2 separate regions of the Homo sapiens genome follow, and region 1 is linked to region 2. The links come from fine-mapping of genetic effects on gene expression. A gene starts in region 2. The other region holds a variant in brackets. All regions are shown on one strand. Distances are between the middles of the regions. Region 1 has its middle 24 kb from the start of PCNX1. Region 2 holds the start of PCNX1 (pecanex 1).

Region 1 (2,910 bases), 24 kb after region 2:
GCATAAAATCCATCTTCTTTACAAAAAATGGCCCTAACCTTCCCAGCTGGAAATGGTCTCTTCCTTTCATTGATCTACTGTGGCACTGTATCTAGTGACACCTAACAGTTTTCTACATTTTGCCGTAGTTAATTGTATACATATTTTTTCTCCCCTTTTACACTATAAGGTCTCTGAGAACAGAGAGCATCTGATTTTTTTTTTCTTTTTTCTTTTTTGAGACAGAGTGTCACTCTGTCGCCAGGCTGGAGTGCAGTGGCACAATCTCGGCTCACTGCCTCCTGGGTTCAAGCAATTCTCCTGCCCCAGCCTCCCGAATAGCTGGGACTACAGGTGCACGGCACCAAGCCCAGCTAATTTTTGTATTTTTAGTAGAGACGGGGTTTCACCATATTGGTCAGGCTTGTCTCGAGCTCCTGACCTCAGGTGATCCACCCACCTCGGCCTCCCAAAGTGGTGGGATTATAAGCGTGAGCCACCGCGCCCGGCCTATTTTTTCCTTTTTGATGGCCTTACAGTGCCTAGCAAAATGCCTTGCTCAGAGTAAGTGCTTGATATAAATTTATTAATCCATCAGCTGGATGGATGGATGGATGGATGGATGGATGGATGGATAGATGGATGGATGAATGGATGGATGGGAAGGAGGTTATAGGAATTGAGACTCTGGCTGAGCTTTTTTAGCCAGGTAGCCATGGCAGGAGAAAGGCTTCACCTTTCATGAGAGCGTATGGTCATAATCACAGAAGGGAAAGAATAGCTTGAACCATAGCTTGAACCAGTTAACCATGCTGCCAATAAAATCAGGCCACATGTGTTTACCATGTTTTATGTTTACCAGGCTGCATCAGTAGGATACTTTAAAATATGGGACAGAAATCCTGACTCAACCTCAAACTAGCTTTTATCATAAAGAAATGTATTGGCTCCAATGCAGGATGTCAAAGGCTGGGTAGGATTCAGGACTGGTGGATCCAGTGGCTCTTTGCATCTCTCTGCTGTGCTATCCCCAATGCTGACTTCATTCTGGGGAAAGATCCCTGGGTTTTGGAAGGCTTCCAGTAGTTGCTGGGTTAATTGCTTCCCTTTTCACCTCCTACTAACTTCCTGTGACTCTTTCTTAAGGGTAAGAAAGCATATTTTCCGGAAGTGTTTAGAAAACTCTTTATGACTCATTGGTC[C/A]CAATTGGCCTTGGCCTGCCTACCCCAGACCCATTCACTAGCAACGGGGATGGGGGTGGGGTTCACATCACTCAGGACCCACCCTAGAGCTGCAGTAGAACCTGTGATGGAGAGTCACTCCAACACCCCTTACACAGCAGACAGTTTTATGGGGGCCACTCCAATGAAAGGTTGGCTCTTAGGACCTTCTCATTTTAGACACGCAGTAAACAATGAAAAACATGTCATCCAAGAGATCTCATTGTCACGGATCTTACAATATATCTCTTGCCTAAGAGTCTTCCGGTGTTTCTTGTGCAAATCCAGCGGTTAGTCAACAGGGTTTATGGAACACATGCTGTTTAGATAGTGTTACTCTAAGCACTGTACAAAGTTAGAAAAACAAGACAATGCAGCTACTTAAAAAAAATTTTTTTTAGAGACAAGGTCTTGCTCTGTTGCCCAGGTTAGCTTCAAACTCCTGGGCTCAAGCAATCCTCCTACATCAGCCTCCTTAGTCACTGGGATTATAGGCGTGTGCTGCACTGCCTGGCTTATTTTTTTTTTAACAGTAGAATGAGCATTGAGGAAAGTAGTTCTCTTCTGTTAATTCTGCTCCGTTATTTTCCAGAGTGTAGAAACTGCTTGATTTCCTTCCTCCTTTCTTTGTCCCCTCTTATTCAGCTCTCTCTTTCCTGTCACTAATTTTCTCCTTTCTTATTCTTTCCTCATTTCAGGAAAGCAACATAGCGGAGATTAGGAGTGTAGAATCTGGAGTTAGATTTCTTGGGTGGGAATTCTCACTTTGAGTTCTAGCTGTGACTTTCCAGCCGTTACTTCATTTCTCTAAGCTTCTTTTCACTGGTAAATCATGTCTAAACATTATGCCTACCTCCTTGGGTTATTCTCGAATTTTAAAAATGATGCACATTAAAAATGATTACTAATGGTTAATGATTTTAATTTTCTTCTTCATCTTTTTTTAATTATGCCACATTTTGTGTCCTGTTCCTCCCTCCTACATCCCACAGTGATAGGCTGATAGAAAATAGTCAGAAATAGAGTGCACAGAATCAACTTCCTAGTGAGAAATGGAATGGAACCATTTCAGTTCCTTCTCTTTTCTTCATTATACTTCGAGTATTTAAAGAGTGCTATGTGAATACATTTAAGGCAATGGAAATGTACAAAACCAGTTGAGAGGAACACATATGTGGTACATATGGAAGCGGAAGTATGAATGCTCTGTTCTGCATAAGAATCCCCCAGCTCTCAGTTGCTTCATCGAGGCCTGGTTTGTTCAATTGGTTAGAGCACCTTCTGATGTAACCAAGATCACGGTTTCAATTCCAGAATGTGGTGAGCCTACTTTATCTATTTGATGGCTACAGCCTCCTCTGCTGAACCTGGCAACCATCTGTAAATGCATCCATTGTTTAGAAAATGATCAATCAGAGGAGCCCGGTTGAAGCAATGCAAATCAATCACCTTACTAGGAAACAACACGACAACAGAAAGTACATGCTATCATGGTGGTGGGTTAACTGTATGATGTTTGTACATGAAGAAGGCATAGACCATGACATCATTATAGAGTTCATGGAAAACAAATAGGTTTGAAGCTATAGGTTCCACAGCAATTCACAGCCTATAAAAAAGATTACTGCTACGTCCCTTGTTTTTAAGGCCCCCAGCTCTTCTTAGAGACCATTTAGAGAATAACTGCCTGTTCCTCTAGACTAGACTCAAT
Region 2 (2,910 bases):
CACGGGGCCGAACAGAGAAGAACCGCTGCGAAGCACAACAACGGTTTTTTAGAGGCAGGAGGGTTCCGAGCCGGGTTTTCAGCCACCACCCAGGACCCCTGGAGGACGAGCCCGGACGACCCCCACACACACTCGGAGCAGAGCCGCACGGTCCCCCGCGCTCCCGGGGCTCCGCACGCGGATTAGCGGCGAGGCGGCGGGCGGCCTCTCCCGGGAGCCCCGGACGAGGGCCGCGGCGGGGGCGGGCAGTGCCGGATGCCGGGCGCCCGAGGAACCCAGCGTGCCAAGGATGGATGCGGCGTCCCCTAAAGCCGCAGAGCGCTCGGCGCCTGCCACACAGCCCCACGGGCGGGGGGCCCCGGCGGGGACGGCCTAGCCGAGTGGCCGCAGGAGGGAACCCCGAGAAGGGGCCTAGGACGCTGCCGCTTCCCAGTGAGCGGGCGGGGGCGGCCGGCGCGGGTTGCCGTGGGCTCGTTGCTCGTGTCACCTCCGAAACCAGGAAAGCCCCGAAGAGAGGAGTGGGAGCACGCAGTGGGGGCGGGGAGCCTCACACCGAGAGGGTGGCGGCCCCCGGGGGACGAGACCCCGTGGAAGAGGAAGAGGGCGCGACCCCAGCATCTCCCCACCGGCTCGCGGGGAAGGAGCCACCCGCTCCCCGCCCCCACACTCACCATGTAGAGGGTGAAGGGCAGGCCCAGCAGAAAGAGCCACAGGTAGAGGTGCAGCGCGTTCACGAAGGTGGCCTGGTGCGGGTCGTAGTACCAGCCCCCGCTGAGCGCGGCCCACACCCCCTGTCGGAGGATCTGCAGCGTCTGCGACCCCATCCCCACCCGGCGCCGCCGCCGTCGCCGCCGCCGCCGCCGCCGTCCCCGCCCCGGCCCCAGCTCGGCCTCGGTCGCCGGAGCCTGCAGCTGCCCCGTCTATCCACCTCCGGAGCTCCGGGTGAGCGAGCCGGCGCTTCGGCGGTCGCTGGTGCTGCTGCAGGAGGAGGAGGAGGCAGCAAACGAGGAGGAGGAGACCCGAGAGGAGGAGGCGGCGAGCGGCGGGGCGGAGGACGGCGGAGAGGAGGAGACCGGCCTTCTGAGAGCCGCCGCCATCTTGTCTCCTAACACCCGGAGCCGCGGCCCGGCCCCCGCCACCCGCGGCCCGCCAGCGCCCCCACTGCCGCCGCCGCGACCCCCGCCGGCCGCCAGCCCTGGGCCAGGCAGAGAAAGAGGCCCGGCGCCAGGGAGCGACCGAGAGGAAGCCGCGCCCCCTCCAGCTCCTCCTCTCCGCTCCCTCCGCCCCCTGGGCCGGCTACGGTGCGCGCCGCGCCTGGTCCGCCGCGGGCGCCTCCTGCCGACGTCCGGGAGAAGCGCGCGTCAACGCGGCCGGGGTTCAGGGCCCCGGGGGCTGCGGAGGTGGCTGAGACGCGGCTGGCTGGTCCGGAGGACCCCATTCTGCCCCTGGTAGGCCCCCTGGCAAGTTCGCCTACGAGTCTCTAAACGGGGTCTTTCTGACTCCGAAACTAACAGATCTTGACTCCAGAAAAGCGTCCTGCCTGTCATTTATGATATTTGTGAAAGACCTAGGAACAACTGAAGCTAACACCTGAGATACTGAAGGCCTGGAAGAGTTAGGTACGGCTGATGACACTGTTGAAAAGTCATAAACGCACCCAAGTTGAGCAAGAACTGTGTTGGCCCGTGTGTGAGAAAAAATAGCCACGTCCAGACTGGGAGAATTTACTACTTCCAAAGACAAGTTAATAGAAGCGGCACAGGACATGGAAGTATGGAGTGGACAGGTTACCATTTGTACGCGGTGATTGTATTTTTAAATGTGCTGTAACTAGCAGCCATTTTTATTAATGGGCCAATCTAAACAGGGTTGAAAAAGATTAACCGTGACGCCACCCCAAATTACAATAGGGTCTTGTAGATCTCTTTTTATAGCTGTAAAAACGGAATCATTCTTGGCTCTGTGTAATGTTTATAAGGCGTGTCTGATCTCACTGAATAAAATTTTATAGAAAAGTTTGAAATTTGAGTTTATTGAAGTTTGGCTTTTATGGCAATAAAAGTACTGTGTATTCCCAGATTACAGTTGCTATAATTAATGAGGGAAACAAGAGCCAAAGGAAACTGGTGATATTTTAAGAAGAGTAATGAAAAACCGTTACAATACCTCCCAGTGCCATACCACTTTATAGTTGCTCAGACACTATCACACCCATTCCATTCAGACCTCAGGACAACCCTTTGAGGGCAGCATAGCAGCTATTGTTATTTTATGGATGAGAAAACCTGTAAACTCAAGTAAGTGATTGGCCAAATGCTTATGGCCACTTATTGCTCATAAGCAATAAGTGGTTGAGAACTCTAAAACCAGCAGTCATGCTAACTGCATGCACTGAACTTTGGAAGTTCATTTCTCAAGGCTCTCCACCTTATTATCCATTTCAGGTAAAAGTTTGAATTGATTAAGAACAGTTCAGCACCTTCTGGTTATCTGTGACCAGCTTAAATACATGACCAGTTTTCGTCAAAGTGCAAATTCTTAGGGCATCATTCTATAGACACTCTGTGGGGTGGTACCCAGCAATCTGTTTTAACAAGTCCTCCGGAGGATTCTAATGTAGCTTACCACTGTAGAACACCACACCATCCCTAGCCTTGATTTGTTTATGTCCTTATAACCACAAAGCCACTGAGTTCCAGTAAGATACCTTGAAATTGAGAGCTGTGAGTAAACACTGGACAAAATATACTTTAAAATATATTTGTATATCTAAAAGCAAAATTATGATTAAATAATGCAATTTTACAATTAAAATAGTGGCCTTGAAGCTGGTGTCATAGATACCAGCTATTGTCAAGTTTTCATTTGTTTCCCCTAAAGGAGACAGGAAAGCTCTCTGGGAAGGTTTTG

What was found. PIP is the estimated chance that this variant, and not a neighbour inherited with it, causes the effect.
Region 1: its variant is fine-mapped to the expression of PCNX1 in whole blood (TOPMed, PIP 0.99).

The regions. Positions count from the first base shown.
Region 1 is chr14:70,881,532-70,884,441 of GRCh38, reverse strand. No RefSeq gene overlaps it. Among named protein-coding and RNA genes, the nearest start is that of PCNX1, 24 kb to the left of the region's middle. The variant C/A (reference allele first, on the strand shown) is at 1,182.
Region 2 is chr14:70,905,765-70,908,674 of GRCh38, reverse strand. PCNX1 (pecanex 1) reads right to left here and starts at 1,216. Exons shown (of 36, transcript NM_014982.3): 1 at 672-1,216. The coding sequence starts at 824. RefSeq lists silencers at 64-403, 564-903, 1,124-1,313.